2 separate regions of the Homo sapiens genome follow, and region 2 is linked to region 1. The links come from fine-mapping of genetic effects on gene expression. Tissue or cell type: whole blood. Region 1 holds a variant in brackets; the other region holds the start of a gene. Each region is shown on its reference strand, or each on the opposite one.

Region 1 (2,908 bases):
TCTACAGGTGAAACAAGAAGCTCTTAAAATTAGAACATATAAAATGTAATTTCTGAGACCTAAGACTCTTCAAAGTTTTGCACATTCATTTCTTCACAAATTATAAAGAAGTTTTGCATTATACTGGAACATTATTTTATTTCCTAAGTTTGTATTTCAAAATGCCCAAAATTTCAGTAAGTTATAGAATCAAATAAGAATCACATAAAGTTAGACAAGAGAAACTCATTTACATGAACCGTACACACTTACCCTGAAGGTAACCGGACGAGCTACACCAGCAAAAGAAAATTCTTCCTGTCTGAGAAGTACTAATATAGCACAAGGTGCAACTGAGGGCGGTTCCAAAAGCCTTGACTAAGCCCTATGCAAAAACCTTGTGACGCACTGCTGCACAGTACTTTATATATGCTCTTGGTTACAGCCTCGCTAGCTCTGAGCTAGTCACAAGTCAATCTACATAACATTATCAATTGAAGTTATGTGACGATTAAAGAGAAGGTAAATCTGTACTATTAGAACTGGCAACTGGCTCTGGAAAGAAAAGAGGAACCTCTACACTAACACTTAAAAACATTCCTTTCCACCTGGTTTGTCAGTGGTTTGTCAGTGTACTTCTGATATGTGAACTTTTCTGTATATTCTATTTTAATACAAAGTTAAAAAGATTAGGTTGCTGTTGCCAGGGCTGGAGGAGGAGGATGGGGAATTATTGCTCAATGGATAGAGTTTCAGTTTTAGAAGATGAAAAGAGTTCTGGAGTGGACAGTGGTTATGGTTGCACGGTAGTGTAGATGTACTTAATGCCACCAAATGAAATGCTTAAAAATGGTTTAAATGGTACGATTTATATTATGTATATTTTACCACTATTAAAAAAAAGATTAGCTCACTTAAAGTCCATAAACAAAAAGACATGATATATGCAAATGTGGTCAAAAAACTGTTAATAGTCTTTATCAAAGGGCAGTGGGATTTAAAGTAATTTTTATATTTTCTTATACTTTTAATAAGACCAGCCATAAAATCTGAAAATAAAAATTAATTTCTGTTTTTAAAAATGGGGGGAAAAAGTTCCTGCCTGTTAAAAATAAGAGCAGTCCAACTGTCATGAAGAAAAAAAAATTTTTTTTTTTAAAAGAGAACTAGTCTTGCTTTTAACCTGAGTAGTAGGGTGGCAATATGCTAATACCATGTGTCAGGACCTGATAGATAAGTTATGCCATGGGCTGTGGGAACCTTTATCATTAGGGAACATGGCTACACTACACTTATGTAAATA[A/G]ATTTTTATTATCGGCTTTCTCTCTACTGTCCTCAGAGAAATCTAGTCTAGTAATATTTCAGTAATCAAATTTTGTGAAGTATCGTTCTCTATTAAAAACAACATGAAAAAAATTTTAAATTGCTGTTAAAAATGGTGTTAAAAAACTATCCAGGCTGGGTGTGGTGGCTCATGCCTGTAATCCCTGCACTTTGGGAAGCCTAGGCGGGTGGATCACCTGAGGTCAGGAGTTCGAGACCAACCTGGCTAACATGATGAAACCCCATCTCTACCAAAAATACAAAAAATTAGCCGGGCCTGGTGGCAGGCACCTGTAATCCCAGCTACTCAGGGTAGGAGAATCACTTGAACCCAGGAGGCGGAGGTTGCAGTGAGCTGAGATTGCGCCACTGCACTCCAGCCCAGGCAACAAGAGCAAAACTGTCTCAAAAAAAACAAAAAACAAAAAAACCCCAAAAAAACAAAAAACAAAACTATCCAAATTTGTATCTACCAAACGTGAAACCTTTGACACTGCTATCTTATTTAAATAAAATAATAAAATTCATAATGAAACACTCCTCTAAGAGGACAGCCTATTATCTCTAATCAGTAATGAAGACTCAAGGGCCACAAAGGGCTCCATTTCTAAAATATTTCTGTATTATGTATGAAAATGATGACTTAAATGTACTTTAATATTATTAGAGTTGACAATGGTAAGAATTTAAAATACATCACTTTGAAAGATGATTCACAGATCACTTTCAACAACCAAGAATATTGAAATGATAGTTCTACAATCTTTTTGGAGTGCAATTTAGAAATACTATTAAAAGCATTAGAAATATACATTCCCTTTGACACATCAATTTTGTGTCTAGAAATTTTTCCTAAAGAAATTAGGCAGTACACAAAACTTTAGCTGCCAGGACGTATACTGCAAATTTGTTTTATAATTCTGGGAAACTTGAAACAACCTAAATGGCCAATATTCAAATGTTCACTAATACAGAAGAGGTGAATAAGCTGTGATACATACAGAAAATATAAAATTATACTGCTCTTAAAAATGATTATTATGAATAGCTAAAATGTATTGTGTTTACTATGTGCCAGATGCCTCTAAGCACTTGACATTCCTTGTCTCATATAATACTTATAAACAACCCTAGAAGGTATGTGCTAGTATTATTTTCAATTTACTGGTGGGCAAATTAAGCCTTATACTTGATAAGCGGCAGAAATGGATTCTAACTCAGTTCTCTCTAACTTCAGAATCCATGTTTCAGATCACTGCACAGTACTGCTCCATGAGCTGAGTATTTACAGACATATGGTCTACTACTGATTGAAAAAAGTTATAATATCTACAGCAAGAGTCCAATTTGAGAAGGAAAAATCTTTATACAAGTATAGGAAAGTTTAAAATAGAATACATAAGACAGTATTTGTAATGACATTAAGGGGCCATTTTTACAACCTGAGTTTTAGAAAATAAATGTGCTCCTTGGGAAATTTAAATAGCGTGTTAAAAACGTCATAGGAGTAGCACCCATCATGTCCATAATCAGAAAATAAAGTTAAAAACCCAGTCAACATCATATAGTTGGATTGTCTGAAACAATGTTTCTAATGGAGACACAG
Region 2 (2,908 bases), not on the chromosome of region 1:
TGTGTGTGTGTGTGTACATGTACGGAGGCCCTGATGCCCAATTCTGTCCCTGACAGCTGAGCTGTGGGTCTCCTGCTATATTTGCCTATGTCGATGATCAGGGCCACATTACAAGTGTGTTGGGGGGGGGGCACGTAAGGGACATGGGTGTATGTGTGTGATCCCTGTGTGCATGGCTAGATGATTCTCCCAGGGGGGTTGTCAGCCGCCTGGGCATCAGTTGGTCAGTGTGTCCAAGGCCTGTGGGTACATCTGGGCAACCCAGTGTGTGTGTGTGTGTGTGTGTCTGTGTGTTGTGTTGTGACAGCCAGTGTTGCTTTGTATCTGTGACGCTGTGTATCTCTTTGTATTGGGGTCCTTTGCATTCACTTCCAGGTGTTTGGTGTGTGTTTATGTGACATTGTGTATCTTCCCTTCATTAGTGTCATCTTATTTATTTAGTTATTTTTTTTCAGACAGGGTCTTGCTCTGTCACCCAGGTTGGAGTGCAATGGCACTATCATGGCTCACTGCACCCTTGACCTCCCCGGGCTCAAGGGATCCCCCCACTTCAGCCTCCTAAGTAGCTGGGACCACAGGCATCCACCACCACACCCAGCTAATTTTTGTATTTTTGGTAGAGAGGGGTTTTGCCATGTTGTCCAGGCTGGTCTTGAACTCCTGAGCTCAAGCAATCCACTGGCCTCGGCCTCTCAATCATCAGTGTCATTCTGTACATCGGGGTGTACTGCCACAACTGCCAGTGTGTTCTGGCACTGCGATGTGTGTGTGTTGTGTATGTGTCTGCGTGTAGGAATTGTGTGTCTGGAAGGTGTCAGCGTGTGGCTGTGTGATCTTGCATGTGTCTGTGTTCTGCAGGAACATGCGTCAGTGTGTGTGCATCAGTGTGCATCTCTATGTGTCATGCACTGGTGTGTCTTCGTGTATATCAGTGTGTGTCTACGTGACGCCTGCTTTGGTGTATGTCTATACGCGGTTCCTTGTTGTGTGCCTGGATACCATGGTGGGACGGTGCATGTCAGAGCGTGGGTCGTGGGTGTTTTCCCAGACTGCTGTGTGTGTGTGCCCGTGTGTAGGGGTTGTGTGTCTGTGCCTTGTGTGCACTGGTGTCCGAGTGTGCTTTGTGTTCGAAGGCGGAACGTGTGGCCAGGCGTTCTGGACGTGACATGTGTGGCGGGGTCCGAGTCCCGCTGCGTGTCAGCGTGTGTCTGCGCTGGAACGCGGGCCAGCACGTGTCAGGGCGGCCGCGTCGGTGTGCGCCCCCGCGCGCGCGTGTGCGTGTGTTCGTGTGTGTGTGTGCATGTGTGTGCTTGTGTGTGTGCGCCGGCCGCCGCTCCCCCGCCCTGCCCGCCCCTCCCCGCGCCCCTCCTCCCGCCCGCGCCGCCCGCCCGCTCCCTCTCCCCGGAGTGCGCCGCTTCCAAACTTTGTCTAAACTTTCACTTTCACAGCGCGGCGGCTGCGGCGGCGGCGGCGGCGGGCGAGGGTGACCGGCCGAGCGGCGGCGGCATGGAGTAGACGCGCGGCGGCAGCGGCGGCGGCGGCGGACGCGAGAGGCAGCGGCGAGCGCGGCGGCGGCGGCGGCAGCGGCGGCCCCGGAGCCGGCGGGGCCGAGCTTGCGAGCGGCGAGCGCGGAGCGGCGCCGGGCCGAGCGCGGGGCCGCGGGCCGGGCGGGCGCAGCGCGGCGGAGGCCGGAGGAGCCGAGCCGGAGCCCGAGCCCGAGCGCGGCCGCCGCCTGCCGGGCCTCCCCTCGCCGCGGCCGGCCGCCGCGCTCCCGCCCGGGCGCCCAGCTATGTACTCCCCGTACTGCCTCACCCAGGTACCGGCCGCCGCCCCCGCGCGACCGGGGGAGGGGAGCGGGCGCGGGAGGCCGGCCGGCGGCGCGGGCGGAGGGGACGCGCGGCGGCCGGGAAGGGGGGGCCGAGAGCCCGCGGGCCGCCGAGGGGTGCAGGCTGTGCCGCGGGGAGCCCAGGCACGCGTGCGGGCGTCACCGTGCGCGTGCGACCCTGGCCACCGGGCGGACTCCTTTTGGGGGTTCCGGGGGTGGCCAGCTGCGTCGTGGCGCTGCCCGTGGAGCGCAGGCGGGAGTGCGTGTACGTGTGTGTGTGTGTGTGTGTGTGTGTGTGCGCGCTCGACTGGGGTGCGATGGGCAGCGGGACTCCGGCTGACCTGTGGGCTACTGTAGCGCGCACCCGGGCAGCGTGGTCGCTGGCAGTGTTTGCGGGGTTGACAGAGTGGCAAGAGGGTGGTCCCGAGGGCGCAGAGGGGACACTGGGTCCCGCGACGCTTCCTGGGGAGGGCGCAGCGGTTCCCGAGGGTGGCAGTGGCCGGCGTGCGTGGCGGCGGCCCTTGCGTGCGGCCGGGGTGCCTGGGGTGGGCCGAGCGGCCCGGGCGTCTCCCCAAAGTCTTTGTTTAGGCCTCACATGGGAGCGGGGCTAAGAAAATGGCGGGGCTCCCAAATTTCGGAGGGGCAGGGGAGGGGAGAGGGGGGCGGGCGCGCTGCCAGCGGTGGCCGCGCCTCTCCGACCCCGGACGTCGCAGCCTCTGCCCCCCCACCCCCAAACTTTCCTCGGCGCAAACTTTCTGGCCCCAGCGACCCGGGCTGCTGCGGAGTGGACCCGGCAGGCCTGGGGAATCCCGTCCCGTCGCCTGGAGGCGGGAGGGGCGGGAGGCAGCCGTGGACACAGCCGACAGTGCTGCGGCCACACCGTCGGGTCAGCCTCGGGCACAACAGCGCCGACCTTGGCGCGTTGCTAGAGCGCGTCCCGCCTGCAGCGAAGTTCCCTGCGCGGCGCACGGCTGCGGCAAAAGCTTCGAGGATGCCTGTCGGGCCACCCAACTCTCCCTGGGCTGTGGCCTGAGGCTCTAAGAGGGCACAGAAGCTGCCCAGAGTCCCACAGTGGCCCTGACA

Evidence for each region. PIP is the estimated chance that this variant, and not a neighbour inherited with it, causes the effect.
Region 2: it holds the start of NFIX, and the variant in region 1 is fine-mapped to the expression of NFIX in whole blood (TOPMed, PIP above 0.99).

Annotation. Positions count from the first base shown.
Region 1 is chr7:33,040,620-33,043,527 of GRCh38, forward strand. The region is part of intron 1 of NT5C3A (5'-nucleotidase, cytosolic IIIA); the gene reads right to left. Among named protein-coding and RNA genes, the nearest start is that of NT5C3A, 21 kb to the right of the region's middle. RefSeq lists a silencer at 309-408. The variant A/G (reference allele first, on the strand shown) is at 1,283.
Region 2 is chr19:12,994,049-12,996,956 of GRCh38, forward strand. NFIX (nuclear factor I X) reads left to right here and starts at 1,427. Exons shown (of 11, transcript NM_001365902.3): 1 at 1,427-1,816. The coding sequence starts at 1,790. RefSeq lists a silencer at 1,374-1,533 and an enhancer at 1,708-2,296.